Regions from separate parts of the Homo sapiens genome. Here all the other regions are linked to region 2. Evidence: fine-mapped expression QTL. A gene starts in region 2. Each other region holds a variant in brackets. All regions are shown on one strand. Distances are between the middles of the regions.

Evidence for each region.
Region 1: its variant is fine-mapped to the expression of SLC6A6 in monocytes after interferon gamma (Fairfax 2014, PIP 0.95).
Region 3: its variant is fine-mapped to the expression of SLC6A6 in whole blood (TOPMed, PIP above 0.99).

What each region holds. Positions count from the first base shown.
Region 1 is chr3:14,482,639-14,493,223 of GRCh38, forward strand. It overlaps SLC6A6 (solute carrier family 6 member 6), which reads left to right. Exons shown (of 15, transcript NM_003043.6): 15 at 2,229-6,711. The coding sequence ends at 2,369. GRIP2 (glutamate receptor interacting protein 2) reads right to left here. Exons shown (of 24, transcript NM_001080423.4): 24 at 6,469-10,585. Among named protein-coding and RNA genes, the nearest start is that of GRIP2, 52 kb to the right of the region's middle. The variant A/G (reference allele first, on the strand shown) is at 6,575.
Region 2 is chr3:14,397,591-14,408,175 of GRCh38, forward strand. It overlaps SLC6A6 (solute carrier family 6 member 6), which reads left to right and starts at 5,016. Exons shown (of 15, transcript NM_003043.6): 1 at 5,016-5,257. It overlaps LOC105376959 (a long non-coding RNA gene), which reads right to left and starts at 4,817. Exons shown (of 8, transcript XR_007095825.1): 1 at 3,071-4,817; 2 at 1,554-1,647; 3 at 739-919. RefSeq lists enhancers at 4,440-4,489, 4,500-4,669, 5,990-6,049, 6,120-6,199 and silencers at 4,810-5,339, 8,614-8,784.
Region 3 is chr3:14,463,307-14,473,891 of GRCh38, forward strand. It overlaps SLC6A6 (solute carrier family 6 member 6), which reads left to right. Exons shown (of 15, transcript NM_003043.6): 7 at 3,210-3,344; 8 at 4,547-4,650; 9 at 4,782-4,906; 10 at 8,899-9,011. Among named protein-coding and RNA genes, the nearest start is that of SLC6A6, 66 kb to the left of the region's middle. RefSeq lists an enhancer at 8,717-9,608. The variant A/G (reference allele first, on the strand shown) is at 5,051.

The DNA of each region.
Region 1 (10,585 bases), 85 kb after region 2:
TTTCCTCCTGGGCAGGGGAATGGCCTGGAGGTGGTGCTGGTGGCAGGGGAGGGAGGGGAGACTGAGGAAGCTGGCAGGGCAGGAGGAAATCCTTGAAACTGGGGGGGCCCCTGGGGTTATCCTGGAGCTTTTGACCCATTCTATTTTTTCAGAGGACAGAGGGCAGCACCCCAACCAGTCTTTAGCCAGAACGCTAAATGGCCCTATGAGCTGTTAACAGACTGAAATACTGGGCCTGGGGACAGGCAGGGAACAGTGACTGTCCCGAGCCCTCCAGGTGACCCCACAATACTCCAGGCCAACCCAACCAGAGTTTCCAGAATGTCCTTACTGTCCAGAAGCCAAAGGGTTCATTAGGGCACAGCAAGGGGTCTCTAAAGGTTCTGATTGGTCTAGGGGTCTCTGCTCTGATTGGTGAGTGCCCAAAGCAATTACATACCATTGGTTCAGGGGGACACCCAACAGGTCACTAACTTGGTGTCCTTCAAAGCCTCATTTTAAAATATTGGTCCAGCCCACATTTAGAAGTTTGGGTGGAGTGGGGTTGGCATGGGGGAAAGAGGTGGGGGAGTGGGTGAGGGCAGGCTTCACCCCACACTGGTACCCCGTCCTCCTGTGCCAGTCTGACTTCACCAAAGGCCCCTGTGAAGGCAGTTGAGCCACCATCTGTCTGTCTTTCTTTATGTGCCCCTCAGGGGCTCCCACCTGCACAAGTCATCAAGGTGTCCTCCCAGCCATGAGCTTCTCTCTGAGCCAGGTTCTGGCAAACCCAGATCTCTGTCCCAGGATGGTTCCAGCTCTGCCTGAGCCTCCTGTGTAGGCAGAGCCCCAAGTGGCTGCCTGGGGGTTTGACTCTCCTCCGCCCTCCCAGGCACAGCCCATTGTATGGATGTGGAGAGGCAAAGTGATGGAGGGAGAGCTGGCAGGTGGCTCAGGTGAGGGAAGTCATGGGGGTAGGGCTGGGAGCAAACTGGAGAAGGTGCTACAAGGAGGGGACCTGGGCCTGGAGTTGCCAGATCTTGCAGCTTTTCAAGAAAAGATGGAAAACTGGATTTAAAAACAAAAAAAATAGAGACAGGGTCTTGCTCCTTTGCCCAGGCTGGAGTGCAGTGGCTCAATCACAGCCTCAAATTCCTGGGCTCAAGCAATCTTCTTTCCTCAGCCTCCCGAGTAACTTGGACTACAGGCACGTACCACCATGCCTGGCTAATTTTTAATTTTTTTTTTTAAGAGTTAGGGTCTCACTGTGTTGCCCAGACTGCCTTTAAATCCTGACCTTGAGCGATCCTCCTGCTTCCCAAAGTGCTGGGATTACCGAAAACTGGGTTTTTAAATGAAATACTGTAGCTTTTAATAAGCAGCTTTTAAAAATTTGTAACATACCTAAGTTGAATATAAATGCCTAGAAAGAGGGCTTGTTGTTTTGTTTGTTTGTCTTTCAACTGCTGGCCTATTCAAGTCTCTGAGTTGACAGTTGGCAAGAGGTGGACTGGGGAGTGGGAGTCTGGTTGAGTCCCAGTTCTGACATGGATTTTCTGGGTATCCTTGGAGAGGGACACTCAACCAACTGTGAGGACAAAACTCACCCTGCTCAGGAGTGATCTAGAATTCCCATGCAGCTCCTATCTCTTGGAAGGGCAGCTCAAATGCGAGCAAGGTTCTCCAAGCCCTTAAGATGTAAACCCTGCTGGGAGGACTGGATGCCTTCAGGAAACTAGGGAAGACCTGTCTCTGCAAGAAGGCAGGAAGTGTAGCTTATGGGAGGCTGAGGAGTTTGGAGTTTCTCCTTGGGGAAGGTGGGAGCCATGGAGGCTGAAGACAGTTGTCCAACTCAGGGCATACAAATGAGAGGAACTCAACTGCTGCTTTGCAAGGCAGAGAAATCAGAGGGAGAGAATCACAGGGAGGCATATTTTAGTTCCATAGAAGAAAAAAAGCACATGAAGGTTGAGTCCCCCATCCCTGTAGGAACGTAAGCAGGGGTTTGGCCAAGGAAGGAAACCACCAACAGGAATTCCGCCTTGAGTCAGGGCCTAGTGGCACCTTAGGAGCGCCTTAGTTCAATTCCATTATTTCCAAAAAGGACAAAAACAGGAGATCAGAGAGGGTGTGAGTTTACCAAAAACCAAACAGCACATGAGCCAATTCAGGAGGAGGCAGATGGCCCTGGCGAAGGGGAGACCAGGCCGCCTGACGTTTCCCCCCTCACTCCTGTCATCCTTCTCCAGAGAGTCAAGTACCTGCTGACCCCAAGGGAACCCAACCGCTGGGCTGTGGAGCGCGAGGGAGCCACACCTTACAACTCTCGCACCGTCATGAACGGCGCTCTCGTGAAACCGACCCACATCATTGTGGAGACCATGATGTGAGCTCTCTCGGGTCGACGGGGCCGGCGGCTTTCCTGCTGTTTACTAACATTAGATTCTCATAGGACCAGGTTTACAGAGCTTTATATTTGCACTAGGATTTTTTTTTTTTTGTAATTGTCACAGAAAATGTAATTGTGGGTATGTGTGCGTGCGTGTGTGTGTGTGTGTGTATCGTGTGTGTGTGTTTTGTTTTGATTTGGGGGATATTTTGTACAAAAAGAAAACCCACGGGAAGATGTCCGTGGAGAGGCAGAGCTTTCATACTGAATTAGATGTATTTTATGGGAATTTGGTAAATTTTTCTTTGTATTTTTTTTTTTACATATAAGTATATATACACTTAGAGATTGTCATATACTTTTACCACTTGAATTGATCTTCTTGCCAGCAATAGATCTCATTTTCAAAAGCAATTCTTCGGTGCTGTGTAGCTGGCAGAAAGTTCTGTCCAGTAAACGCAGGATGGAATTTTCCTGGGACTCTACACCCATCTTAAGGTGGTATACCTTCCAAATCCTGGTTCAGATGGAAGAAATAGCAGGAGAGAGGACCCATTAGCTGGCAGACCCAGGGGGAAGAAAGGAGGGCTGTGAGGAGATACCTCATTAAACTTGGCTTAGTGAAGAAGAGAGATGCCAAAGGAATGAACCAACCCTTCACATAAAGGAGACTGGCTGAAGCTGAATGAGGAGGCCCTATAGCAGAAGTCTGATTCTAAGAGCAGTAGAAACTTGTACCAGAAGCAAAATCCCACTTTTAATTTTGAGATGGTGAGTGGATAGTCAGTAGACCGTCAGAACCACTGGCCAGAGAGGGAGCTGCTAGAGATCCAAGAAGGCTGGCAGGAGTGAGGCTCACAACTCAGCCTCGCAAGAGGTGGCAGAGGCACAGGAGGCCACAGTCCTTCCTGGGGCATTCCAGGCAGAGAAGGAGCAGAGGCTCTCCCGGCAGGAGCTGGGGTCTCAGGGCTCAGATGAGTCTGTTGCATTTGAATGGGGTCATAGCAGGTTCTGGTCATTCCCCAAGCAACATCTCAGCATCTCTTAAAGTTGCCTGCAGGAATGAAGCATGACATACCTGTTGAGGGACTAGGGGAGTGGTGGGGAGGTGAGTGGACCAAAGGATATAGGCCCCAGGCATGCAGATGGGCCCGGTGTCGGGGAGGGGTGCTTTCTTTCCTCATCTCCCCACTCCCCACTCTCAGCCTGGGAGACTCCTGCCAAGCCCTCATTAAAGATGCCACCCTGGGCTGCCCTGGCACCTAGCAAGGCACACCAAGAACAGCTTTTGAGTCTGTATCCTCCACTGGGGGAAGTGCTCCCAGTTCAGAACAAGGGCAGCCCGTGGTGCTGACCTAGGATATAACAAAGCTCTTCACTTCAAAACCCCTGCAATAGCTGGGTTTACAGACATTTACCACCTGCGGACCCAAAAGAGAAGGCCTAGGAGAGTTTTCTAGAAGGTTGGGATTGTCAGGGTCCTGGCCCCTCAGAACTGGCTTGATCAAGGGCCTTATGTGGAGCAGAGGTTGTCTCTGAACCAGGAGAGAAGGTACTATACCTTTCAAATCCCCAGGGCAGACACACCCCCACCCAGCCCCTATTTGGACCTAAACTGTGCCATTTGAACAGTCACTTCCAAGCTCAGTCTAAATGAAACCGAAACGTGACCACGCACAAAGGCAGTCACTGCCTCGAGGGGTGCAGACCGCAGAATTTTCACAGCAGGGGCTCTTGGAACCCTGGAAACCCCCTTCTTAAATTTGGGAGGAGGAGTATGCCTTTGGTGTCCCCCTCCCAAGGGGCAATTCTGAACCCCATCTTTGGCAGGCATACATATTTCACTGTTTCCAAAGCTATCTACTCTGCCAAACAACACCCAGTCCTATTCCAAACTCTCAACGATTCTATCTTGTTCCTGTTTTTCTATGTATTTATGGTTGCCGTTTGTGTCTGATTTGATTTTACTGTTTTTTCCCTGATTTTATGGAGTAGCATTGTGACCTGTTTTCCTTTGTCTTATATAACTTTAGTAAACTAACCACTGTCAATGATTGAGGGCAGGTGGCACGTGGGGAAGAGGGGACTTGGCACGCAGTGGCTACCTGGGCATTTGTGGTCATTTCAGTTTCCATCTCCCCAGCGGGGGCTCCCTGGGTGAAAGGCCACAGTATTTTGGGTTGGTAGGCAAATTGCAACATTCTGGACATGGCCTGAGGAAGGCCTCTTCTTATAAGATTCTCAGACCAAATTCTAGACCAAAGACACAGGCAGACCAAGTCCCCAGGCCCCGCCTGGAAGGAAGTCGTTCCTCAACTCTCCCCAAGGCACCTGTCTCCAATCAGAGCCCTCTCGCCCAGCCAGCCCTGGCTCTGTGTGCAGAGCATAGCTCTGCGAGTACCTGTGTAATAATGCTCAACCTTCATGTCTCCGTATAAACGAAACTTTCCATGAGAGCTCATGACTCTGGTCCACCTGTCTATAGAGAATGGGCAAAGTCCTTCACCTGCTTTCTGCTTGGGATGGGTCAGAAATGCTGATGCCCGCACATAGCCCAGCCAGCCAGATCTGGAAAGGAAGCGAGGGGGTTGTTTAAATCAATTTTTTAAGATGAAGAAGTGGGAGACACTGCGTTGAGATGGGCCATGCTAGGGCCACAGAGATTTCCTGACGGTCAGGGAGAGAAGGGCCTCCAGGGTCCCCTAACCCAACGCCCTTGTTGTAAATGAGGTAACTGAGGCTCAGGGAGGCACTGTGAGCCAGGAATGGATTTTCTTGAAACAGCTCTAGCTGCAGGTTCTCCGAGGTAGGTGCAGGGAATGGTGAGTGTCTAACCAGGGCTACATCCAGCAACATCCTCAAGGTCTTCCTGACAACCAAAGACAAGCCTTTATGGAAAAGGAAATGCGCTCCCCTCCATGTTCAGGGATGAGGGGAGCAGCAGCAGCCACACTCCCACCATCCTCACAGAATTCCTGGACCCATGCGGTGGCTCCGTGAGCTGGGTGACTCCAGCCTCACCTGCACACCCCAGCCCTGCACGGGGCCCTCCTTCCTCCCAGCAGCCCTTGGTGAGCTAGGAATTGAGATCCCTGTTTGTGAAAGAGGGAACTGAGGTGCAGAGAAGCCAGAGGTGTGCCAGATCCTTAGGCAGGATTTAGATGAAGTCGCCCTGGCTCCAGACTGACCCCGAGGCTCTGCGGGGAGTTTCCAGGCAGCAGGAAGTGGCCTTGGATGCTCTCCTTCCAGGACAGCATAACCCCTGGGCCATGTGCAGCTCCTTCACTGCCCCCTGGATCCCCAGCATACCCCCAAAGACAGTGGGGAAACACAAGGGGAGAGCACAGCATGGCCCCTCCAGCCCACTTCAGGGCACTCTTGTATCACCCGGGTACCGCCACACTGGTCCCCCACCCAGCCAGCATCTCCCAGCACAGCCCCTCTCCCTGGGGAAATGCTCTGGGTAGCCAGTCTAAAGGCAGAGGCACCTAACTGCTCCCCGCAGCCCACCCCACCCAAGATTCAGACACAAGCCAGGAAAGGACCCAAGAGAAAATCCTTCAAGGTGGCCTGAGGTCCCATCCCTCCCTCAGACCCATGTGGTCCCAGGCCAGGCTGCCTGGGACACGGTAAATACCACTGTGTGCAAAAATCGAAGTACAAAACCACAAGACTAAACAAAACAAACCCAGAGAGCCAAACTTGTAGAGGTGGGCAGTCCAGAAAGCAGGGGGCAGCCCTCCCCCTTTCCTTCTCTCCCTGATCCTCAGAATATATATTGTTGTAATAGGAAGCATTTTTGCATTGTTCTCTTGTGGGTGTCACTACAGACATGTTCTGGCGTGTTCTCCGAGGGATGGAGCATCCTGTTATATATTTGACTTCAAATTGAGATGTTGGCTTCATTTTTTTTTTTTACCCAATTAATCTCCCAATCCCTAGCAACTGTGACTCTGTATTTAGCACAAGAGAAAGCTGAGAATGTGGGTCTTGCCTCCTTCCAGAAATATGTCTGGCTCATCAGGACATTTTTTTAAAACTTCAAAATATTTTTAAGATATTTTAAACTTTTATAAAAAAAAAATCAACCAACAAGAGACTTTTCTGAGGAGGAACATTTGTATTTGAACAAGATCCTTGGTGTGTAGTTCAGTCTTGCAGTATACAAGCTTTTGTGTATAAATGTTTTATGATATGATTCCCTGT[A/G]TTTTGCAGGGGTTTTTTTCTCTTTTGCTTTTTAGATAAATATGTATATCAATATTTTAAATTCATCTTTGCTTTTTTTAGAGGAGTTTGTAATCACCTTATAACATGAAAATAAACATTTCCTTTTTAACATCCAACATGTGTGGGTTGTGTTCTGGTGAGGTATTTCCCCCTCAACGTTTGCCAAACGCTTTACATTTTATAAAGGGCTTCCCGTCCAATCCCAGGACGCTCCTCAAAGGTAGGTATTTTCCCAGGTTAGAGGTTCCCACATGGAGGCTCACAGAGGAAGCAGCTTGCTCACTCAGGGGTACACAGCAAGTCCATGAAAGAACCTGGATTCGCACCCGGGCCCATGAGCTCTTGGCTCTACTGGCTCTACTGATTCTACCTGCTACATGCCCAGCCCTGTACAGCTGGGAGATCTGGCAGCAGTCACCTGAGCCTCAGTTTCCCCATCTGGAATAAACCATTGTCCCCATCAAGGCCACCAGGATGATTGGAGGTGATGCTCTTGGCCTTAGGTGCTCACCTGCTGCGGCTTTCAGTCCCTCCTCTTTAGCCTTGGGCTGACCTGCCAGAAGGGCAGAAAGCGGGTGGCGGAGTGGGGGAAAGGGTAGAGGGGGAGCAAACCTGATTGCCCTTCTCCCACTCCCCCACCGTCAGGTGCAGGCGCTCATTAATACCCAGTTAGGGGCTCTCTGGGGTCACAACAGGTCCATGTTTGGGGCAGCCTTCCTGCCAACAGCGCCCCCCACCCTTTGGGATGGACAAACTCGGGAGTCAGTTGAGCCCTTTGCCCAACTAACCAGACAAAATTCTCAGTAACTCATTTATAGACAATGTTAGAATAGAAGACCACCCTACCCCCATTTTCTGGCTCTTTCTGACAGCCTATGCCTACCTGCCTGCCTCTCTCTATGTGTACTGGGCCATGTGGCTTGTGTTCAAGCCCTGGTTCCATCCCTTACTACCTGTGTGGACTTGGGCAAATTACGTAACCTCTCTGTGCCTGTTTCCTCATCTGTAATGATGGGACAGGAATAGAGCCCACCTCCAAAGGCTATTGGGAGGATCCAGCAAGCTCTTGCAAAGCGCTTAGAGCAAGGCCTGCTGCCTCCCTTGGCCTTCCCCCTGCCTACACCACTCCCAAGACAGAGTACTCGCTTCCTGGAAAGAAGCTCTTCCTCTGCTCACAGAACTGTGGCCTCCCCAGTGGGGCCTGGCCCTGGCCTCTGGGTCCCAGACCCTGTAGCTCACCTGCCCTAGACACTCTCTGGACACTCCAGGGCAGCAGCCAGACCTGAGGCTGCCCTCCTGCCACTACCTTCCCAACCTGGGCTAAAGAGACTCCATATGCAGGCACCACTGCCTGCCTCTGGCTTTCTGCTGCGCAGAGAATCAAATTTGCTCCCCCTACCCAAGCCTTCACGACTGATTCCTGCTACCTCCAACCTAGTCTCCAGCCCCATTCCCCTCCCAGGCCTTCTTTCTCTTCCTTGAGACCGTCAAACTCGTTCCTATCTCAGGGCCTTTGCACTAGCTGTGCCCGCTGCCTGAGACACTCTTCCTCCAGGTCTCCATGGAGGCTGGCTCCTGTCTTCAGGTCTCATTGCAAATGTCGCCTCTTGAGAGAAACCCCTCCTAATATTGTGAGCTAAAGCCCCTCACCCTGGTCCCTCTATCCCGTTACTCCCTTGTTTTCTTTGTTGCACTTGATGCCTTTTGAAATAATTATTTATTTGCTTACTTGTTGATTGTCTGCCTGCCACCAGAATGTGCAGACATGACCTAAATCTGTCTGATTCATGTTGCCCAGGGGCTGGATGATGGAAGCAAATGGCAAACTTTTTGAATTAATGAATCATCAAAAGCAGGTGAGATGTCACCAGACCCATACAGAAGCTGACTCTTGCCAATCCATGATTTTTTTAAAAAGCAAACTTCTACTCTAGGTGGATTTAAATAATTTTATTTTAAAAAATCATCCCCATGGCACCTACCCCCAAGCCACTGCAACCCCTGGTGGGACAAAGACTTAGACGAGGGCCCCAAACAGACCATAAGCGGCCTTTGCAATACAGCCCCTTGTGCTTCCCGAGAGCCCTAAGAAAACCCGATGTAGAAAAATACTTTACAAGGAATGTGTTCTAATCTCAGCCAGAGAAAAATACAGCTTTGGGGGAGAGGGCAGGTGGAAGGGGACATGTCACAGGGGCTGTTCCCAAAATGCATAGGCAGGCAGGGCGCTCACTGGGGAAAGGTGTCAGGAAATTTCAAGTCGGGGATGAACCATCCCCATGAGAAGCCAGAAGAAATATTGCATATGAGGAGGCCGGCATGGCTGGGAGGCCCACCGCGGGCCTGATTGCATACTTTTGGGAGAATGGCAGAGGCCTCAGCCCGAGGAGGGAGGGGGGTATTAGTTAGAGTCGGGTGCATCTTCCCTCGCCTGGAGTCCTGGAGTCAATGCAGTTTTCCCAAGCCGAGAGGCCCTGAGAGTGTGTCCTGTCCAGCCCTGTTGCTTAGCAGAGGTCCAGAGAGGCTGAGCCACCTGTCCAAGGTCACACAGCTATGGCTGCTTGCATCCAGAAGCCACACCTCTGCTGTGCTGTCCCTCACCCTCAAAAGTGAGGGCTCTTGGCTTTCACTTGGTGCCCTGTGACAGGTAGACAGTGCCCTTTCACTCTGGGCTGAGTACACGGGAATCCAAGATAGCAGAGGCGCTGAGCACCCCAGGCACAAGCATGCAGGGCCCTCAGGGAGGGCACCAAGGGGCAGAGCCCAGCGAAGTGGAGGGGAGGGGTAAGGGAGGCAGGCCTCCAGGAGACAGCGTGGGCAGGTCCCCAAGGGGGCCTTGGTGGGTCGGCAGAGATGGTTCCGGCCCTGACCAGGAGGCCTGTGTCTGCTCAGACTGTCCACCCGTGATCGTCCAGAGGGGCTGGGGGTCCAACCCAGACAGGGTCACACAGCAAACAGGTAACAGACCCAGGGTGAAAAGAACAGACCTCTTGACTCCTCATCTGTTCCCTCAAATGGAAGAGCACTTTTCTGGCCTCCAGGGACCCCAGGTTGGAGACAGATGGAGGTGGGAGTGGGTGCCCCGTTTTCCTGAGACCCCTGTGAGAACTGGGCCAGGCAAAGCACATCCCCAGCCCTGGCTACACCTGCCCGCCCACTCCATCCCAGGCACCACTCACTAGACCACCAGGGGAGGCCCACACCCTTCTCAAAATGAAGAGGGTCTCTGATTTGTGGACACTGAGGACAATGATTTTAAGGGATGCTGGTGCTTCCAGATTTCAAGTGGGAATAGACTTCTTTGAATAAGCACTTTGGACACCCTCCACTGGGCAAGAGTGTCCCATCTTTTTCTCTGGCCCATTTCTCTCCCATCTCCCTCCCTCTTTCTCCTCTTCCTCCACTGATCTGGCTGTAAAGAGGAGCGCTACCGCCTCACAGGTCCTGCGTCCATCGCTTTTCAATTTTCACTGGATGGCAGGTGAATGGAAGCTCCAGGGTCTTTTGCCCCAAAATGACCCCTCCCACATGGAGGGGCTTGGGCTGAGCGGACGTGCAGATGGGTCAGTGGCCACACGGCCTACAGAAGAAGCAGGAGGGCTGAGAGCCCAAGGCCCATAGAGCCTGCCCAATGGGCCCAGAACCACAGTCTCAAGTCCCAGAAGCTTCAGACTGAGATGCTGAAATCAAAGAATCACCCACTTTCAGAATCAAAGGGCCAGCACTTCCTGGGATCCCAGACGCCCCAACTTAAGAGTCTCATAAGTGGGGACCAGATTCTGGGAATCTCAGAATCTCAGGACTAGCAAGCCCCAAACCCCTATTCTGGAGAAGCGAAGGAGCTGGGCTCCCATCCGAAGCAGCATCCTTCCTGGTGGCCGAGTCTCTAGATGAAGTGGCTCCCCATCAGGAAGCCAACCCCCAAGCGCGTGTGCACGCATCATGGGAATGCCTCATACCCCAATGCATGACTGCGCTGGGGTATCCAGC
Region 2 (10,585 bases):
GAATAAATGTACTGTGGGTCCCCGGTCCCCTGCAGAGCTGTCTCCAGTACTGACACCTTCCCTGTCTGTCCAGTTCTGGGGCAGTTTTGCTGTGCCCACTGAGGGAGAAGAGGAAGTGAGCCCAGGCACTTGCCACCCACAGACCACATCCTGCAAGGGTTTCCTGGGGTCCACTGTGCTCCAGGCCCCATGCTGGGACTGCTTGGCATCCCCGCTTCCTGCGTGCTCCCTTTCTGGGGCTCCAAGTTTGGCAGAGACCCAGGTTGCAGAAGGGCAATGGGCAAAGTGCTTGGCAGGAGGGAGCAGCAAGGGTGAAGGCCTGGAGGCAAGAAAGCCTGGAGCACACAGGTGGCAGGGGTAGGTGGGGGTCCTGCTTTCCAGAGTGTTAGACTGTGTGCCAGGGACCTGGCTCAACGCTTCACATCAATCATCTCCACTCACTCCACACAACAATCTGCAGGAGAGGGGTTATGATTAATCAGGCTGTACAAATCAAGAAACCAAGGCACAGAGAGGTCACATTATTCACTCTAGGTCACACAGCCCATGAGGGATGGAGCTGAGATTTGCAGGCAGGCAAGAGGAGGGTAGTGGGCAGGAAGCAGATCCCTGAAGGCCCAGATGCTCTGACAAGGCTCTGCAGCCACCTACACACCCAGGGACGTGGACACACTGCAGTGTGCCCAGGAAATGCTGGCCAGGTCAGGGAGGCAGCCACTCAGCAGCCCCGCCACTGACCCTTGGTCTCTTCAGGGCTGCTCCCAGGGATGATGTTCTGAGAGTTGTAAGAGGCCGACCAGACAATCCTCGATCTCCAGCAGGATCCCTGAGCTGGCCAGGTGGCCCAGCGTGGGCTGCACCTCCCACAGGCATTGCAACAACTCTTGTTGGTGGCCTGATAGACGAGACAAACTCTTCCCTAGAAAGGGGCGAGAAGTTTTGTTCAAAGTCCTAGATCAATTTTATTTTACTGTTGAGAGCTGCTAAAGAAAGTAATCATAAAGTAGGCTTTGAAAAATTTCGTTCACTGCCTCTACGTGGACGGCTGTAGACTACAGCCTGAAAATTGGCCCTCCGGGAGCTCTGTCCAGCAATCGATTTTCATTCTTGAAATGAGAAGAATTAGTCCCAGTGGAATTTCAGGCTAGTCTATGGTTCTGAGGGGAACCTCGGCCTGGCTTTCCTTGAAGCTCCCTTCTTGTTGCCAAAGCTTTCCATTTCCCTTGGTACTCACAGTTATCTTTGAGGGGGCAGGGTGCACAAAGTGCATCATGGGTCTCAAATTCAGCTCCCTGCAAGGGCCGGTAGGTGACAGAAAAGAGCAAACTAGCTAGGAGGGAGCTGTGGCACCCTGGGGAGCCCATGTGAGAGGGTGGCTAATGCCCCTCAGCTCCAGGACATTGTAGACAGGGGGTTAATGGGCCTGGGTGGCCCCATTTTGCCATATTTCAAGATAAACCAGGCATTCAGATTTTGTTGTTGTTGTTGTTGTTTGGAGACAGGGTCTTGCTCTCGCACCTAGGCTGGAGTGCAGTGGTGTAGTCATAGCTTACCGCAGCCTTCACCTCCCGGGCTCAAGTGATCCTCCTGCCTCAGCCTCCTGAGTAGCTGGGACCATAGGCATGCACCACCATACCCGGCGAATTTCTAAAAAAAATTTTCATAGAGATGGAATTTTACTTTGTTGCCCAGCCTGGCCAGATTTTTTAAATGTGAAATCTTCCAAGCTTTTATTCATAAAAATTAACTCCAAACACATTAAAGCTCAGTGACAGCCAAAGAAGCACATCTGGGAGCTGGATTCGGTTTAAGGCCTCCAGTTCGAGACTTCTCCTCTCCTCAGAATGGCTCATTGAGGCAGGGTGTATTTTATCTCATATTACAATGAGGAAACTGAGGCTCAGAGAGCAGGCCTGCAGGCCCAAGTCACACAACTGGGAAGCCACAGGGCTGAGGTGGAGCTAGGGTCTGTGGCCTCCCGCACTGAGCTCTCTCCACCCTGTGCATGCCTCTAGCTTTGGCATTGGCTCCTCCTGGCCCCTTCTCCGGTCTGACCATCCCTTTTCCACCTCATCTGCCACCTCTCCCTGGGGCTGAGGTTGGGGCTCTTCTTGCCTCCTTCTCCTCCTTTCTCTCCTTGGGGCTGGGTTTTTTTGTCTGGCAATCGCCCACCCAGAATCCCCTCATTCAAGATTGTAACCTCTGGAGCCAGGTGGCCTAGGTTTGAATTCCAGCTCTACTATCTGCCAGCTGAGTGACCTTGGGGAAGTTACTTAACTTCTCTGTGGCTCGGTTTTACCTTCTATAAAACGGAAGAAATAATTGTACCAATCTCATAGGGGTGTTGTCGGGATGAAAAGGGTTAACTTATTAAAATGCATTTAACTGTGCAGGGTACATAGTTAAGTGCCAAAGAAAAGTAAGTTAAAGCCAGGCACGGTGGCTCACGCCTGTAATCTCAGCACTTTGGGAGGCCGAGGCAGGCAGATCACCTGAGGTTGGGAGTTTGAGACCAGCCTGATCAACATGGAGAAACCCCATCTCTACTAAAAACACAAAATTAGCCAGGCGTGGTGGCGCATGCCTGTAATGCCAGCTACTAGCGGGGCTGAGGCAGGAGAATCACTTGAACCCAGGAAGCGGAGGTTACAGTGAGCTGAGATTGCGCCATTGGACTCCAGCCTGGGCAACAAGAGCGAAACTCCGTTTTAAAAGAAAAAAAAGAAAAGTACGTTAAAATAAATGCAGCAAACACTTATTGAGTACCTACTGTGTGTCAGGCCTATGATAGACTCCAGGAGTTGATGGAGGCAAAAGAACAGATCCCATCCCTCATGGAGCTGGTAACTGGATAGATGGTTCACTCGTGTGTCTTGCGCTGGCACTACCTGCATGAGGCTCCGCTGGCCTACCTGGAGGTCAAAGGATCCCATGGGCCTTTCCAAGTTGCAGCTCTGAACACACAACTCTTCCCTCCTCCCACAGCCACTGCCCTTGCTCACTCTCTCAGACCCTCAAGCTCAGCCCTGCCACCAACAACCTTGCTCTCAGGCCTTCGCACGGCAGGCACCTCTGCTAGAACTTGCTTCCTCTCCTGCCGGCTTCACTGCTCGTGGCTTAGTCAAAGCCTCCTTTTGGTTCAAACTTCAATCCTGGAGTCCCCTCCCCACGCTAGGACCTGCCCCTTTGCTTCAGTCTTTGTGCCCTGTGCGACCACACATGCACAGGGCGTCTGAGGAGTTTTTGCTTGACGTCTATTCCTGCAGTTCATGAGGGAACCTCATAGCTGAAGCAGAGGGATGTGGGAGACCCAGTCACTCCTCTTCCTCAGCTTTCGTTTGCTCACCTATAAAAGGGTACAGTGACCCTGAACTCAAAGGAGAGTGCTCAGGTGGCCAGAAGCAGATGTCACGTGGGCCACTGGGACCCTAGAGGCACTGCTGATCCCCAGGTGCTTCCTGGAGGAAGGGGCCACCCGGGGCCCGCAGAGAAGGGTGGGAAGGGTGACAGGAAGGCAAGGAAGGGCATGTGCCCAGTGGTCCTCGTCTGTCTTGGCTGGAGCCAGTATGAGGAGCACCCACTGGAAGGTCAGGTTGGAGTCCGATGGCAGGGGCCTCCAGGGAGAGCCAGTGTCACTTCGGGATGCTCCTTAGCATCCTGGGGCTGTACAGGGAGAGTGGCTGCAGAGCCCTTCCAGGCAGGGATCCTGGCCTGAGTGGGGGCAGCTCTTGGTCGGACCTGTGTGGTATTTCTTCTTCTTCTTCTTTTTTGTTTTTTTGAGACTCATTCTTGTCACCCAGGCTGGAGTGCAGTGGCGTGATCTCGGCTCACTGCAACCTCCGCCTCCCGGGTTCAAGGGATTCTCCTGCCTCAGCCTCCTGAGTAGCTGGGATTATAGGCACCCGGCACCACGCCAGGCTAATTTTTGTACTTTTAGTAGAGACGGAGTTTCGCCATGTTGGCCAGGCTGGTCTCGAACTCCTGACCTCAGGTGATCTGCCCCCTCGGCCTCCCAAAGTGCTGGGATTACAGGCATGAGCCACCGCGCCTGGCCGGTATTTCTTCTTTCATTCTCCGTGTAAATGGTGGAAGGATCGGCTCTCTCCTCCCCGCCTCCCAGGTGCAGAGAGAGAGAGAGAGAGAGAGGGACAGGAGAAGGCTGGGGTTCGGGGTTCTCACAGCGTTTCCCTCTCATGCTGCCAGGGCGGGGCAGTGGAAAATGGTCCCTGAGGGCCCGTTCATTCAAATAAGGACAAGAATAATGGCACACTCCCCATCTCCATTTAAAAATAGTCACATTAGCTGACACTGGCTTGGCACTTCCTAGATGCCGGGTGCGTTCCGAGTTCTCTACGCTGTTAACCTTGGATCTTCATAACAGCCGGAGGAGACAAGCGCTACTATTTTCCTTTCCATTTTATAGATGAGGACACTGAGGCAGAGAAATTGAGTCACTTGCCCAGGGTCACACAGCCATGGCAAGGCCAGGATTCTGGAGCTCTGTACCTGGCTTCACACCACAAGCTCAGGCCACCCTCCCGGGGCATACCGAGTCTCCCAGAACGTGGACGATCGCCCAGGGCAACGCAGTGGAGTGCGAGCCCGGTCTGGTTTGCACCTGGCTGCTCCAGGAGCCCTGGGCCTCATCCTAGGAGCCTGGCGGAAGAGGCGAGCGGTGGAGTTTGGAGGCTGCTGTGAAGGAAAGGACTAGGCGGGTCGGGTCGGGTCTGTCCTGCTCTTCTTCCGCAGGCAGGAGGCGCCCAGGGCGGGCTGCCGCACCTGGCAACGAACGTTCGCCGCGCGGCATGAGGGTGTGCGCGCGCGCTCGGCGAGCCCGGGTTCTTTGTGTGTCCGAGCCCATGCGCGCGTGCGTGTTTGCGTGTATGTGTGTGCATGTGTATGTGTGCGCGCGTGTGTCCGCACTTGGGGCGGGGCTGGAAGCCCCGGCCCCGCCCCGGCCCCGCCCCCGGCCCGGCCGAGCTGGTATTTTTCCACCCAGCAGGATGGGTGATGCTGAGAGCTGCCTGCTCAGACAACAGACACGCGAGGTCAGGAAGAAGCCGCTTATAAATTACCGCTTCCTTCGCGCCGCCGCCAACGCCGAGCCCCGAGGACCGCAAGCCCAGAGGACAAGCTGCGCCAAGAGGGAGTGCGGAGCGTTCACCCAGCGGGTCAGAGAGCGAGCGGGCAGGCAGCCCCCGGCCGGCGGAACCCGGCACAGCCGAGCAGAGCGCGGGCGGCGCCGCAGCCACCCCAGGTACCGGAGGGACCGGGAGCTGGGCGCGCAGCCGGCGCTGCCCGCCGTCTGCAGCCCCTCCCCATCCCCGCGTCGCCGCAGTCCCGGCCTCCTCCCCTCCGCGTGCGCCCATCCGGCGCCCCTTTCACCACCGCGGAAGGGACCGAGAGTCGCCTGCTCAGTCCCGCTGGCGGGGCTGTTATTGTTTCCCCGGCAAAAGGGCTCCGGCTCTTGGTGCGGGCGGCAGGAGAGTGTGTGTGTGTGTGTGTGTGTGTGTGTGTGTGTGTGTGTGTGTGTGGCATATCTGTGTGCCTGTCTCCGTCAGGATGCCTACATGTGCCTCCGTATCCCTGTGTCTGTGTTTCTGAGGGTGACTGTTTCACCGTGTCCCCAGCAGCGTGCACATGTGTGTTCCGGTGCATGTCTGTTATTCTCTGCGTGCTGGGCTGTGTGTGTGTGCCTCTCTGTGTGTGATACCTGAGTGTGCTGTCTTTGGATGTGTGCTCTTGTGTGTCCCCGTTTGTGTCTGCATGAATCTGTGTGTGGGGGGCTGCGTCTTCCAGGCCCTGGCTAGGTGCACGTGCGTGTCCCTGAGTGTGGTTGTGTCTCCAGGTCCCTGGTTGTGGGCACTCGTGTGTCCTCGGCTGTACCCAAGAGGGTGTCCCTGGTGCCTAGAGGGTCCAATGGCCAGAGCTGGTTCTCCAGGGCCGGCGCTGAGTGGGGAGAGGTGATAGGGCAGCGTGGCTCCATAGGTGCATGCACTCCATAGGTGGTGTGCAGGTGGCAGCGCCAGCGTCCAGCAGTCCTGAGTGGTGGGACCAAGGCCCGGAGGGGCAGCCAAGGGGTAGTGGACAGCCGGCAGGGCCAGCAGGACACTTCCCCCTCCAGACTATTTCTCTTCCTTCTGTGGGTTCCTCTTTTGAGTAGGAGATTCTCGTCCCCCTCCCACTAGGGAAGCCACACAGAGAGAATTCCAGGGACCTCCTCCTACAGCCTCAAAGCTTCAGCCTGGACTTCAGCCTGGACTGGAGAGGAGACCTGTGGGCAGCTCTCCCAGGCAGGGAGGTGTGTGCCGGGTAGGGCCACCGGCCTGGCTATTTTGGTCACTGTTGGGCCTCTGCCAGATCCCGGCATCCCCAGGACCAGCCCCAAAAGCTTGGGAGGCAGCCTGGGCCCCCGTTTCCTGTCTGGGGAAATAAATCAGCTCAGTAATTGCCCAGACACTTGAATGGAGGGTCTTCGGGCTGAGGTTTACTGGCGCATGGCTCCATTTGGACTTCACTAAATTGGCCCCCGCTTTGGCACAGCTGACGTTCAAGTAAATGTCACTGAGGAGATCTTTTTAAAATTTCTTTTTAATTTTTTGTTGGCTAGAAGGGAGGGGATCTTGTCCAGAGTCTCCTAGCCAGAAGGAGTTTATTTTTATGAGAGAGAGAGCGGGTGAGTGCTTAGCAACCACCTGCCTCCCTCTCGACCAGGGAGTCACCCAGGGATTGTGGGGTGGGCATGAGGAGGTGGGGTGGGGGAGGAATTTCATCAAGATGGTGTTGGAGAGGATCCAAAGGGGGCCTAGCACGGCTAAGAACCCCCAACAGGGTGGGACTGGTAGAATGGTGGGAGGTGTTAGGCCTGGCTCAGCCCCCAGTTGACCTTGGGCAACCCTTTTTCTGCCTCAGTTTCCTTACCTGTAAAATGGGTGGGGCAGACTGGTTATAGAGTAAACCAGGGACCAGAGGTAGGAGCTTGTCCCCAGGGAACTGATTTAAGTCCTATGCTTTGTTTTAATGGGTGGGTGACCTTGGTTGATTCCCTTGGTTTCTTTGAGCCTCGGCTTGGCTGCCTGGGCAGCAAGGACACCAGTGCCGGCCTCACTACGTCCTTGAGGGGATTGAGGGAGATGAGGCTGAATAAGCTTGTAGTAAGCTGTAAAGCCGGGCTCGGCTGTAGAGCTGCTGATTAGAGGGTGTCACGAGGTCCTGGGTCACTGTGGTGTATGGCAAGGGCCAAGGTGCATTCTGGAGGCTTTGTCCTTTGGGGACACCCTTGTACTAACCCATGGCTCAGCTGCAATCATCCTCCCCTGCCTCCTTCCCGTCACCTCAACCTGTGGTGATTGGACCACATCTGCTTTTCAGAGTCTGGAGGCCTGGTGAGCAGTACCCATTTTATAGATGGACAAACTGAGAGCCACCTAAGGGACTTTGCCTTGACTGGACAAAATTAAGTTTCAAAAGGTTTTCCCTAGCTCAGCTGTGAGTTTTGGCCCCATGGGGCTTTGGTCACTGATATCCTCGGGAGTTGAAATTGAACCGGGGCCTGGGGAAAATGAGGAACAAAGGTGTCCCAGTCCTTAGGGCAGGAAAGTGAGCCTATGGGACCCATTTGCACCTTGCTTCTGTCCCTAGTTACTCATTCTCCCTTCCTTGTGCCTTCCCCTGAGCCCTGCTACCCATTCTGCTGCAGGGGTCAGCCCTCCACAAGGCAGTCCGGGCTCTGGGGACTCTGTTTTCTAACCTGAACTTGTCCGCCTGTCAGTTTGTCAAAGGATTTGGGAGGTGTACTTCTCTGAAAGTCTTTCCAAAAGTCCTGAATGATAAGAAACTTGTGAGTCATTGAACACATTCCCGTATATAGAAAAAGCTGAGAAGTAAATTATAAGGGCTCCCCAGAATGCAGCTTAGCTGCAGCCAGAGGGGGTCTGCCTGGGAATTGGGGTTGGCCTGAAATCCCAGGGCCACCCTGGCAGGTACATGCTGATTCCCCACTTCTGCAGAAGGTCATGAGCAAGAGTCAGATTCTTTGGGGCTGCATCTCATTTTCCTGTGTTTGCCAACTTGGCCAGAGCGTTCGTTTGAATTTATGGGTTCTGGGCAGGAGCTGTGGATCTGGAAATGCCTAAGGAAGCCTTCAAGTGAGAATGAGAGCGCTTTTTTAATGTGCTTCATTTAGTTGATTAATAGACCTTGGTTAAGGTCAGCTCTGGGCTGGCACTGGGTTCAAGGTAGAGTGTTGGCTTTCTAGGAGCTCCTGTCCCAGAGGTAGAAGCATGTGGTAACTGCAATGGCCATTACCATCCGTAGGATACAGTGAAGAAGACCCAAGGAGCAGCTGAGTGTGCAGTGAGGGTGGGGTAGTGGGCAGGAGGCACTTTCGCTTCCTAGAGGACACAGTGTCGGAGTTGCCATTGTCTGTGGGTGGAGAAACAGGATGGGCTGGCATTCTCCACAGGGGGCAGAGTAGCCACAAGGGCACAGTGGCGTGAAATAGCCAAGCATGTTTGTAGAACAGGTTCCCCGGGTCCTAGCTGGAGAGAGGAATAGGAGCCAGATGGTGGGGAGGGGGGCGTTTTATTTTTTCACATATAAAAATAGAGACAGGGTCTTACTATGTTGCCCAGGATGGTCTCAAGCTCCTGGGCTCAGGCAATCTTCTCGCCTCAGCCTCCCAAGTGTTGATTATAGGTGTGAGCCACCGTGCCAGCCGGAGGGCCTTGAATGCTGTGTAAGTGGGTTTGGGCTTTCTCCTGATGGCAGCAGGAGTCATACTGGGTTTAAGGATAGTGGGGCAGAAGCCAGTCAAGCCTGGAGCCCAGGAGAACCCTGATGGTGAGTAAGGAACGGAACTGGGGTCCAGGAGACGGAGAGTCACCGAGCCACTAAGCATTTTCTGTACCAATGAGTCTTGCCCTGAACTCTTTCTGTAAACATGGGGGTGAAGGCCTGGACATGCTATTTAACCGGTACACAGGCCATTAACTTGCTGGCTTTGACCTCCCTGGAGCACACAGCCCTAGTGTCTCTAGGTGAGTTATGCCAGTCCTGGACAGGTCTGCGGAGTTTCCTTTCCTGCCTTACCTGGTCAGAGGCTTCATTTGGAAACCTGGGCAGAGGCTGATGCCAAGGGTGGGAGTTAGGGTTACGAGAGGGAAAGCAGAGAGAGTGAGGAATTGCTGTTCTGTTTCTAAAGCTCCAGCGTTGTGTGGCCAACCACCCTTCTCTTGGAAAAACCAACATACAAATAATAAACCACCTGAAACAAAAGAGTGGGGAGGGAATGATGGGGGAGGCAGGTGGGCTGCCCTAACTGTGGTCAGGTATCAGAATTGCCTGGGATACTTAAAAACAAACAAACAAACATATTCAGACTCCCAGGCCCAGCCTGGACATACTGAATCAGAACCTCCAGGGGGATGGAGCCTGGGAATCTGTATTTTTAAAGTTTTTCTTGTGGTTTTTTTTTTTGAGACAGGGTCTGACTTCGTTGCCCAGGCTGGAGTGCAGTGGTGCCATCACAGTTCACTGCAGCCTCGATCTCCTGGGCTCAAGTGATCCTCCCACCTCAGCCTTCCAAGTAGCTGGGACTACAGGCATGCACCACCACTCCAGGCTAATTTTTGTATTTTTTGTACGGAGGAGGTTTCACCATGTTGCCTGGGCTGGTCTTGAACTCCTGAGCTCAAGCGATCCTCCCACCTTAGATGATTTTTAAAAAATGTTTTTTAAATTGAGTTATGATTTACATGCAGTAATATGCAAAGATTCTGTTACGGTTTGATGAGTTTTGACAAATGTATACACCTGTGTAACCACCACCCAAATCAAGATATAGAACATTTCCAGCACCTCAGAAAGTTGTCTTGTGCTCCTCACCTCACAAGACAGCCACTTTCTCCGTTTTCTTTTTCTTTTTTTTTTTTTTTGAGACAGAGTCTTATTCTGTTTCCCAGGCTGGAGTGCAGTGGCATGATCTCTACTGCAGCCTCGACCTCCCCAGTCTCAGATGATCCTCCCACCTCACTTCCCAAGTAGCTGGGACTACAGGCGCACGCCACCACACCTGGCTAGTTTCTTTTGTATTTCTTGTAGAGACAGGGTTTTGCTGTGTTGCCAGGCTGGTGTCAAACTACTAGGCTTAAACGATCCACCCTTGCGGGCCTCCCAGAGTGCTGGGATTACAGGCATGCCCCACCATACCAGGCCCACTTTCTGATTTCTGTCACCATAAATTAGTTTTGCCAGTCTAAATCCTCATATAAATGGACTTATTTAGTGTATACTCTTTTGTCCATTTTTTTCTGCCTCACATTGCTGGGATCCATCTGTGCTGTTGAGTATATCAGGAGTTGATTTTTTTTTTTATCGCTGAGTAGTCTCCCATTGTATGGATGTTCCACAATGCGTTCATCCATGCTGTTGATGGACATTTGGGTTGTTTCCAGCTGGGGGGCAGCTATTACTAATAAAGCTTCTATGTGCATATTTCTGTACAAGTGTTTTTGTGGACATATATTTTCCTTTCTCTAGGACTAGAGCTGCTGGGTTATAAGGTAGTAGATATGTGTTAACTTTT
Region 3 (10,585 bases), 66 kb after region 2:
TCTGAGGATTAAATGAGTTAAAACTCACGAAGCCCTTAGCTGAGTGCCCCGCACAAAATCCGCACTGCATAAGTGCTTGTTAAATAAACTAACTACGTGAAAACAAAGAAAGCCACCTCCACACCCCTGTCCCTGACACAAAGCCCTCTGGTCACAGACCACTGGGTTGCTTGGCCCAGTGGAGGCCTGGCTGGCTTTGAAGTGGCCGCCCTCTGGAGACCCCTGCGGGGCTGCTGTCAGCAGCTATTGTTCGCCAGCCCGGGTGTGGCCCACAAAGGGCCCCAGAGGTGGGAACTGGTCGGGGCGCCTGGCCGCCTGTCCGCCTGTCCTCAGGAAGGGAGAGGCAGGTTGGTTTTCTTTTTTCACTTCTTTCCCCCCTTCTGTGGCTTCCTGATGTGCCCCCGCCCTCCACGTCTGCCTTCCCATCCTCGGGAAATCATGTAGGCTCCTGGCCTCAAGGAGAAGAGATGACGGTGGCTGGAGAAACTGAGGCCTGGAGGAACAAAGGACGCCCGGGGGCAGAGGCAGCAGTAGGGCCCAGCCTGTCAGTGTCGGAGAGCCATCCTGACAGTGCCGGCCAAAGAGGCTTCTTGAATGCTCACCGCAGGCCAGGGGCCATCGAGCAAGGTCAGCGTTCCCTTATCCTCAGTGGACAGATGGGGAAGCTGAGGCCCAGGTCACCAGCAAGGGGTGGCAGAGGCAGCGTGCAACCCCTGGTAGAGGTGGCTCCCCAGCTGACCCACAGCCTCTCTACCCCTCGACCTAGAGTGGCAGAGTGGGAGGCAACCTCAGAGCTCCTACGGTCCCAGCCCTTTACTTCCTGGTGGGGAAACAGTCTAGAGCGGACAGCGGCTTCCTGGAGGTCTCATGGCAAGCCAGCCTCTAAGCTTGGCTTCAGACCTGAGGGCCTCCCTACTGGCTGCCCTCTGGTCTTGGGGAGAATCAGTAAACTGCCAGTTGTGGGAGGCTTTTTGCTGGTCTGCTATGTGTGGGCTGTGGGGCAGGTCCCCATTCTGTTGCTTAAGCCCACGTGACCCTGGGCAAGTGATGGACTCTCTCTGGGCCTCAGTTTTATTGTTGCAAAATGGAGATAGTAATACAACTTACCTCAGAGGGTTAGGGCACGGGCCAGTGAAAATAGACGTCACAGCATTTGGAACAGTGCTAGGCACACAGTAAGTGCTCAATAAACGCTGCCTAGGGGTTGTTGGGCTGAGGGCAGCTGAGCTAAGCAGGCCCTGAAAGCTTCCTTTTTGCCCTTTTCCAAAGCCCCTTTCTCATTGTTTCTACTCAAAGGGATCATGGCCACAAGAATTTGCTCTGTCGAGGGTCGTGGTGCCAGCTAGGTGAGGTTTGGGGCTCTGTCACTATTGGTCAGTGTCTGTTACATACTTGGGCCCCAGCAGTGCCCTGGCACTGCACCCCCAACTCCATGGGCACATTTGTCCTGTTCTCTTCATCTCAGTTTCCTCTCCTGTAAAATGGGTGCATTGACTGTGCAGTGGTTCCTCCAAGGTCCCCTGATCCCCAGATGCGGCCCAGGGCTCTGCCAACCAGTCTCAATGTTTCAAGGTGGCCACCATGAACTTTCTGCATGTCGAAGTAAAACACTTCATGCCTTTCTGCACAGAGGTTAGCCCTCCACAGGCTCTGGGTTCAAATCCTGGATTCCGTTGATGCCCTGGGCACGTCCTTAAAGCCCACCAAGCCTCAGTTTCTCCACTGTAAACCACCGTCCTGGGGGGCATGGTGAGGATGAAGTGGGCTTGTGCCTGGGACGTTCCTACTCAGCCAGTGCCCTGCCTGAAACACTAGGATCGAACTGTCCATTCAGCCAGGCACCTTCGAACTCCTCCCAGGCATAATCTCTGTCTGGAAACTCCTTGTGTTGAATAAGATGGGAAAATCCATCCATGAGAACTGAAGCCACAAACAGCGCTTGCAGGACAAGAGGAGAGAAGGTCTTTGGGAGGAGATGGCCACATCGTTTCTAGTCCCCACCTCACACCTGATCTTGGCCTGTCTGGAACATGCAGTGTGACCCAGGGAAGGCCATGGGTCTCCCAGAGGCCCGGTGAAGCGGGGAGCCTTTCCTATTCCCAGTTAAGGGCCTTTGAGAGGCCTCATTTTCTTCCCTGAAGGTCTCGTCCTTCCAGCAAAATCAGTGTCAACAACAGGCCCTCTTTCTGGAGCACCTACTGAGTGGCAGTGTTACAAGCATCATCCTATTGAATCCTCAGCTCACCCCTTGTTGAGGGGCTTCTATTACTCTTATCTGAATTCTACTCATGAGGAAACAGGTCCAGAGAGGTTAAGCAATGTGCCTAAGATCACACAGCAAATGAGGGGACGGAGCTGGGATTTGAACCCTTGCTTATCTGATCCCTAACCATAGGAATCATACCAACATTGTAGTTAGTTGTTAACTAATATGACCTGCATGCAATGGGCACATGCCATGGTTGGCAACCACTGGGCTGAGGCTTCTACACACGCACTTGATAGCTTACTCTCTGATTTTGCTTTTTCCACCTCTACGCCCTGGAATGTCAGTTCCACGAAGGCAGGGATTTGTTTTCTGTCTTATCCACCACTGTATTTTGTGCTTAGATGGTGCCTGGGACAAACTATTTATAGGATGTTTTTCATTTAATCTCAGTAAATCTGTGAGGTGGGCTGGCGCTGTGGCTCATGCCTATAATCCCAGCACTTTGGGAGGCTGAGGCAGGTGGATCATTTGAGGCCAGGAGTTTGAGACCAGCCTGGCCAACCTGGTGAAACCCCATCTCTACTAAAAATACAAGAATTAGCTGGGCATGGTGGTGGGCACCCGTAATCCCAGCTACTCGAGAGGCTGAGCCAGGAGAATCACTTGAACCCAGGAGGCGGAGGTTGCAGTGAGCCGAGATCGTGCCATTGCACTCCAGCCTGGGTGACAGCGAGGCTCCGTCTCAAATTTAAAAAAAAAAAAAAAAAAAAAAAGAAATCTGTGAGGTAGGTACCTGTATATACCCAGATTACAGATGAGGCAGCTGAGACCCAGAGTGGTTAAGCAATGTGCCAAAGGCCGCACAGCAAGTAAGACAGCAAACCTGGCTCCAGAACTCCTGATCCTGACCAGTGCTCCCCTCTGCCTCTCTGAGAGGATGCTCAGACTTAGCAGCAGCAAGTGATGCCCATGGCCTCCTGAATCCCTCTCGCCCTTGCAGGTCGTCTACTTCACAGCCACTTTTCCATTCGCCATGCTCCTGGTGCTGCTGGTCCGAGGGCTGACGCTGCCGGGCGCGGGCGCAGGCATCAAGTTCTATCTGTATCCTGACATCACCCGCCTTGAGGACCCACAGGTACTGTGGGGCTGGGACACACCATCCTCCCTCCCATCCAGGGCTGGGCCGGCACAGGACAGGGCAGGATGTAGAGGCCACTGGCAGCACATCTTCCGTGGTTCTTCAGTGCACAGGTCTAGCTGGGCCACCGCCCCCTGGTACTTTTCCACCGGGCCTGTGGCGGGTGTGCCTGTCCACGGTGCTGATGGACCTTTCTAGCTGTGTGCATCTCTTTTCATGTCAAGGACGTCTGAGGGTGGCCACTTAGAGAGGCTGCTTTAGGCCCTGCACCAAGGGGGAGAAATCTTCTGATGAGCAAGTCTCCCGCTCGGACCCAGCTTCTGCCCACTGCAGCCACAAGGGCTGCTGCATCCTGGGGATGGGAGAGTCGGGGCCTGGAGAGCTGCGGGCTTCCTTGGCTGAGGGTGGAATTCAGAGTTAATGGCCTTGGAGGGTCCACGGGCAGATACCGAAAGCACACCTTCTGGCACTCAGCCTTGTGACCTTGGGGAGGTGGAGAAAGCCCTGGGAGATTTTCTGGGTTTGTTTGAGGACCTGAATCCCCAGGGCCTTCCGGTTGCTTCCCAAGGGCCTGTGCTCTCCTTCCCCACCACCCTTCCCCCTGGACAGGACACAGTTGTGAGAGGGGTTGGCCAGCCTTGGAGGACAGCTGGGAACGAGCTGCTTAGTGAAGATTCTGGAGAGCAGCTTTGCCTGCATAGTTCCTTGGGACCTCCTTCTGCATTCTAACTCGGGGGTCTGCAAACAGTAACAACAATGGTGGTGACAGCAGCCTTGACTTACGGGCTTGCCATGTAACTGGCACTGGGCTGAATCGCCACTCTTTGAACCTGGGAAATAGCTCTATGGGGTAGGGCAAAGGAGCCCATTTTATAGATGTGAAAACTATCTATAAACTGCAGGAGTGATATTTACTTGCCCACTGTCATTCCAGGGTTGGAATCCAGATCCATCTGCTTCTGAATCCTCTTAACCCTGATGCTAGGTCGCTGGGAGGTGGGGTGTTTGATTTCTGGGGCTCCTTGCAGCTCAGTACTGCCTTGAAAGGCACCTTGGATTCGAGCATAAATGTTCCATTTGCATGTGCAAGGTCCCGTCCCCAGGCCATCGCCAGGTGGACATAACCCTCGCTGCCTCCTCCAGGAAGCCAGCTCTGACAGCCCTCCTCTCTTTCCTTGCCACCTCCCTCCCCCTCATAGGTGTGGATTGACGCTGGGACTCAGATATTCTTCTCTTATGCCATCTGCCTGGGGGCTATGACCTCGCTGGGGAGCTACAACAAGTACAAGTATAACTCGTACAGGCAAGTGTTGCGCCGGCGGGCCTGGTGGACTTTAGAAATGATGATGATGATGTTTAAAGAAAAAGAGAAGTAGGGAGCGTGGCTTCCTTGTGTTGTGAATTAACTTGCTCCCTGACATATGTGTAACTTAGGGACTGTATGCTGCTGGGATGCCTGAACAGTGGTACCAGTTTTGTGTCTGGCTTCGCAATTTTTTCCATCCTGGGCTTCATGGCACAAGAGCAAGGGGTGGACATTGCTGATGTGGCTGAGTCAGGTACGGTGGTATCGGTGGCAGTGGTGGTGGGCACTGCCACCTAGTGTGTAAGCCAAGTACTGCAGGCATGAAGCCAGACCCCAGGGGGCTTTGAGGGGGGACGAGCCTGGTTTCTAAAATGGACCCCCCCCCCGCCACCAAGAT[A/G]TCCCCCAAATTTCAAAGAGTACAAAGCCAAATTTTAAACATTTGTATTGCAATTTGGCCCTGATGGGTGGCAAAAGCATGGGGGGTGGTTAAGTTGGGGAATTTTTAGCTACCTTAGTGTGGTCTTCCCCGCCCCCCCGTCCTTCCCCAGCAAACTCCTGGTTTCCACAATAGAAACCACTTTCCTAACTCAGGCCCAAGTCAGCCACCAATCGGCATTCCATCACCACCTTCTCAGCCTTGGTTTCTGTATTTTGCACTTTGCTCCCAGCGTGCTCCCTCTAAGCAGACGCATTCATCCATCCCACCGATTTCTCGTGAATGAGTCCCAACTCTGTGTCAGGCACCACCGTAGGCACTGGGTGCAGTGTGTGGGGGGAGGGCGTAGATGAGGGGACGACCTACTGGGACGGTGGCAGATCCAACTGGGGGTGGGTTGTAAGCACAGTGTCGCCCCTCGGGGTGTGGGCCCTGTTGACCAGGCACTCTTCCTCGGGCTACCTGGAGTCACAGGCATGGAGGATGCCAGTGGCTTAGAATCACGGACTCTGCACAGACGGGGAACTTAGGAATCTGGGATCCCAGAGTTCCAGCAAGGTGCTTCTGGAACCTGAGAATCATGGGGCCTTCAGTTGCTAGAATCTGCAATCTCTCAGGTGCCTCGATTCTGGGACTTGGCCATGGCTGCTTGAGGTCCTGGGTCTGTAGCTTTAATTGCAGTGGCTTGGGTTATGGGATTCCCTCAGGCTCCCAGGATCCTCAAAGTCCACCTTTCCGACCTCTCCACCCTTCCCCGGCCCTGCACAGTTTACTTGGAGGGTGGTCATCAGTTGGTTTTGTTATTTTACATGCTGAGCCCCCAGCCCCACCCCGTCCATGTCCTAATTTCATACAACTTCCCTGGGGCTACCTGGAGGTGGCAAGGTCCTGGGCTGAGGCTCCTTCCAAGCCGAAGGGAGAGCGTGGGGGTTATTAACTTCAGGGACCACCATAGACTAGGGCCAGACACAGCCGGAGGCCCTGCCATTCCACTGCCCTTGACCTCCTGTGCCATCTGTATTTGGAACATGAGGCGATGTCCCAGTCCCTGAGTCCTAGAGCCCTAGCACTGGGGGGTCAGAAGGTGCCTCAGCATCGCGTGTCCAGATGTTCCCTTCTCAGATGAGGAGACCAGCAACCTGAGAGCAAGGGCTTTGCTTGGGATAGGTGGGGCTACAACAGGGCTTTCTGAACATCCTGTCCACTATTTCTCCACTTGTCACACGCTGGACAGGCCTTCTGACACAAGGGTGTCCCCCTCCTGCCATCCAGCCCACCCTGGACACATGCAACAACCTCTGGCCCTTCCAGTGTGAGAATTTGGCCCTTGTGACCTCCCAGAGCCCCTGGCCCCTCCTCACTGTCTTCTTTGCTTGGCAGAGATGCACACTGCCCAGCCCCATCCTGAGACCCCTGACAACACTGCAGGACCCCCTTGGCAAATCCACATGTCACCCCCACACACCTCTCCACTGTCCCTGCTTCCAAAGTGGACCCTCAGATGTACTGTTCCCTCCACTGAGCCCAAAGAGCCCCCAAAAGCAGGCCAGAGACTGAGGACACAGAATGTAACTCCAGAAGTCCCCACGCCCCTTAGGGAGTTTGGCAATTAGAGTGGTGAGGGGGAGCCAGAGATGATTTATACCTCCTCTGTAGATGGCTTGCTTTCAGCTGAGGGCTTGCAAACCAATCGCAATTGAGTGGGAATCTCCAGGAGTATGGAGTGAATTTGGCAATGGGAGATACAGATAGATACATACAATGTATCTTCCTCCATGGACAACGAAGTATTTTCGTAGACACATATATTGTCAATCTCAGTTGTTTTTTCCTCCCGTCCACTTCAAACACCTTGTCATTTATTCCCCACGGTGATGTCTGAACAGCCGGCACATCAAGGGTGATTATTTCTCTAATAAGCTTTTAACAAGCACCATATTGAGTGAAGTGCATTTGAACAAGATAATTATTTAGCCTAACAGAGTGCAAACAAGACGTGGCATGGCACATTGTCTGCTAGCAGAGAGGCATCCAGAGGTTCTCGGAGTGGCTGGATTATGTCTCCTGGACTTCTCTCTCTTGAGTTCACCATGCACTTTTAGAGAAAGACGCTCAGACCCTCTCCCAGAGGCTCGCTTGAGAAAGGCAAAACTAAAATACAGAAACGAGCGAATTGAGAATCTTCACAACGTCCCTGGTGGGTTGGGGGTTGTGGGGGCCCATTTTGCATCTGTCTTGCAGCTGGCTGGACTCGATTCCTCATTCAGTGTGGACCAGTCAGGGCCAACGCTGATGTTCTGTAGGGACCAGTGGGGCCCCGGTCTGGGTGGAAACGCCGCGGCTTTTGACTCCAACTTCAACTTTGATTCAAAAGTCATCTCACCGGGTCCTGGGGTCCATATTTTTCTGAACCTGGCCCTGGTTCTTTTGGGCATGTTCTGAGCAGTTTTGGGCTTGGTAACCCCCGCTCCTGATGGGGGTCTCCAGCATCTCAGCGAGCAACCACTCTGTCGCTGCCCAAGGATATATTTTGGTCAGGTTTTCTCTGGATTGTAAAAGGACACACCCTTCCCTGGCACACTGGGGGTGTTAACACCGTATAATGTGGTTTCTGGTTCCAATTTATTGTAAAGTTGGGTTTTGCTTTTTGTTTTTCATTCTTGAGCCATTCGTCTGGTTTCTAATCCCTGCTGAACAGCTCCTGCTCTGGCCCTTTTTGTTTCCTGCTTCTTGACTTTTTTTTTTTTTTTTTTTTTTAGTTGTAGATTTTACTTTCTTTTGCTGCCCTCGCTTCTCAGACCCACAGGTCTCAGTTAACAATTAAATTATTTCCGTTGGCATCCGCTTTCAGGCAGGCTGGAGACAGGAGGAGACATTTCTCTCTGTCTCCGGAATGTCTCCCATCAGAGACATCCCCTGAGCTGACAGAGCTCCCATCTCCCCAGCTCTCCCTCAGGTTCTATCCAAGTCCCTTCTTTTGAAACCCAGAGCCCTTTTCTAGTGACATGGTGTCTACCTCTGAGAATCTAAACACAGGAAGGCTCCTTGTGAGTCATTTATGGCCACCTGCCCCTCACTTTTCAGGTGGGGAAACTGAGGCCCTGAGAGGGTATGGGGTGATTCAAAAAGGAAATTGGAAGAGGATGACTTGGATGCAGGCCTCAGGGCTTGCAGGCCTGGGACCTTGCCCCTGCACCCATGTTCCCTCAGCTTTGGGCCCTGGTTGGCCCAACCTTGACCTCATGGGCTTGGCTCTGACCTTGCCAGGGAGAGCCCCACAAATGCACCCCTGAAGAGACAGGCCTCCTGTTGGGCGTGGTTTTGTATTGGTTTTTCTTTCCACTCCTATGGTGTTTTAGCCATTAACTCAAAAATAGAAACTTTCCCTTTGCAAAGGAGACTGGGCGGTCAGGTCACCACCACGCTCCCCCGCCTCCTTCCAGCAAAGGCTGTCCACTCAATGGCTTTGCTTTGGGGTGGGAGGATCCTCCCTTTCCTTTGTCTCTGCAGACCAAGCCCTGGGCTCAGTCTGCATCCTACCCCAAATAACCACGCCCCGATGGATGCTGGTGTGTGAGGAGGCCACGTGTGCTGTGTAGGAGACAGATGCTAAAACCGGGCCCCTCCTGAGCCCCAGCGTGTCCCACCCAAAGGCGAGACAGGCCTGGTCTCTTTCCCCAGGCCAGAGTTCAGACCTGGCTCCCTGCTGTATTTGGGTCTGAGTGTCTTTGTGTGAGCCCAGGGTTCCCAGTGGCTTGGTGGCTGATGTCTCCTCCCCTGTGCCCCTCCCCGTTTTCTTTCCTTTCTAGGTCCTGGCCTGGCCTTCATTGCCTACCCAAAAGCTGTGACAATGATGCCGCTGCCCACATTTTGGTCCATTCTTTTTTTTATTATGCTTCTCTTGCTTGGACTGGATAGCCAGGTGCGTATAAGGGATGGCCCTGGGGCGACTGCCCCTGTGGGGAACCTGACTCTGGGAAAGACTCCTTATTCCACCTGGGAGGTGGTCAACCCCCTTCCCCCCTCCAGTCAGACTTCCAGTGCTTCAGCTGTGAGGGTTCCTCCAGGACACCAGGAATAGAAAAAGCTCTGCGTCCCCAGAAAGTGCATTTGAACAAGATAATTATTTAGCCTAATGGAGTGCAAACAAGACGTGGCATGGCACATTATCTGCTAGCAGAGGGGCATCCAGAGGTTCTCGGAGTGGGTGGGTTATGACAGGGACAACCAGGGTTTGTGGTTACAGTCAAGCCACAAATGACGAATTGGAGGTCATGACTCAATAAGTCATGATGTGCTCCAGTGGAGCGTCGGCGGGGCACAGGAGGACATGGCAGATGGGCGATTCGGAGAAGGGACCCACATTTCTGTGTGAGCTGATCATTGTCTGGGCCATCGTAATAAGTTGCAAGTGCCCAGGAGAAGCCTACGCCACACTCAGGATTCTGTGCTCCCTGGAGCGTGCGAGGGGCTGGGCATTGGCTCCCTCCCGTGCTTTATACACCGCACAGGCCGGGAGCCTCGCTCAAACCCGCCCTGACCTCTGGCTGTCCTGGCTTCTCCCCTCCCAAGGCAGGACTCCTGTCTCCACTGAGGTTCTTTCCTGCACTTCTAAACCCCGTATCCCACCCCTTCAGGGCTCAGGCCTCCACTAGAAGGTGACTCATGGCCAGGGAATGCCAGTGAGAGCCGATGAGTGGCTGCATCTGGCTGTAGAGTAGCCAGTGCCTAGTGTGGGGTAGTCAGCAGTGCTCGGAGGACAATTCACTTGAGCTCCTGGGCCCCTTTCCCTGGAAATAGGTGTATTTTTGACAGGGTCTTGTTGAAACAACAGTTCAGAGCACAGGCATGACTCCAGGAGTAGGGATTTATGGCATGTGGGACAGGCTGGTTGTGTGCCCAGCCCAGCATGAGCCCCTCAGGCAGCGCCATGCACATGGGCCACTGAGAAGCAGGTAGGATGTAGACTGTGTAGTCTGGGTCTGGAGGTCTGAATGCCTCTTGGGAAGCCTTTGAGCAACTGAGACCCCCTGAGAGGTTGGAGCTTGCAGCCAGGGCGGGAGAACCCTTTGTCCCCCTCCCCGCGGGCCGAAGTCTTCAGAGTCATTGTCCCAAGTGGGTCCCCAGAACCTGGTAGGGGAAAAGTCTCTGAAGGTCAAGCAGAGGAGGGTGAGTCCAGGGAGAGGAGGCGGCCAGCCAGCAAGGTCAAGAGCAGAGCAGGGGATTTGGCAGAGAAGGGGGCAGGATTAGCAGAGAAGACAGAACGAAAACATCAGGGAGACGGAAAACAAAATACTTCTGCAGTTGTTGATAGACTTGAGCTGAATAAACAAGCAGGAGGACTCCATTAATCATTCCTAGTTAATGAGTTTGGCCTTCAGAGGCCCCAAGCAAATGGCTTTTATAACTTCTTCCAGAGCTCTAAGTGAAAGAAAAAAACAAAAACAGAGGTTAATAAATGACAAGGCATGACATCTTCATGGGCCCAAAATAGGC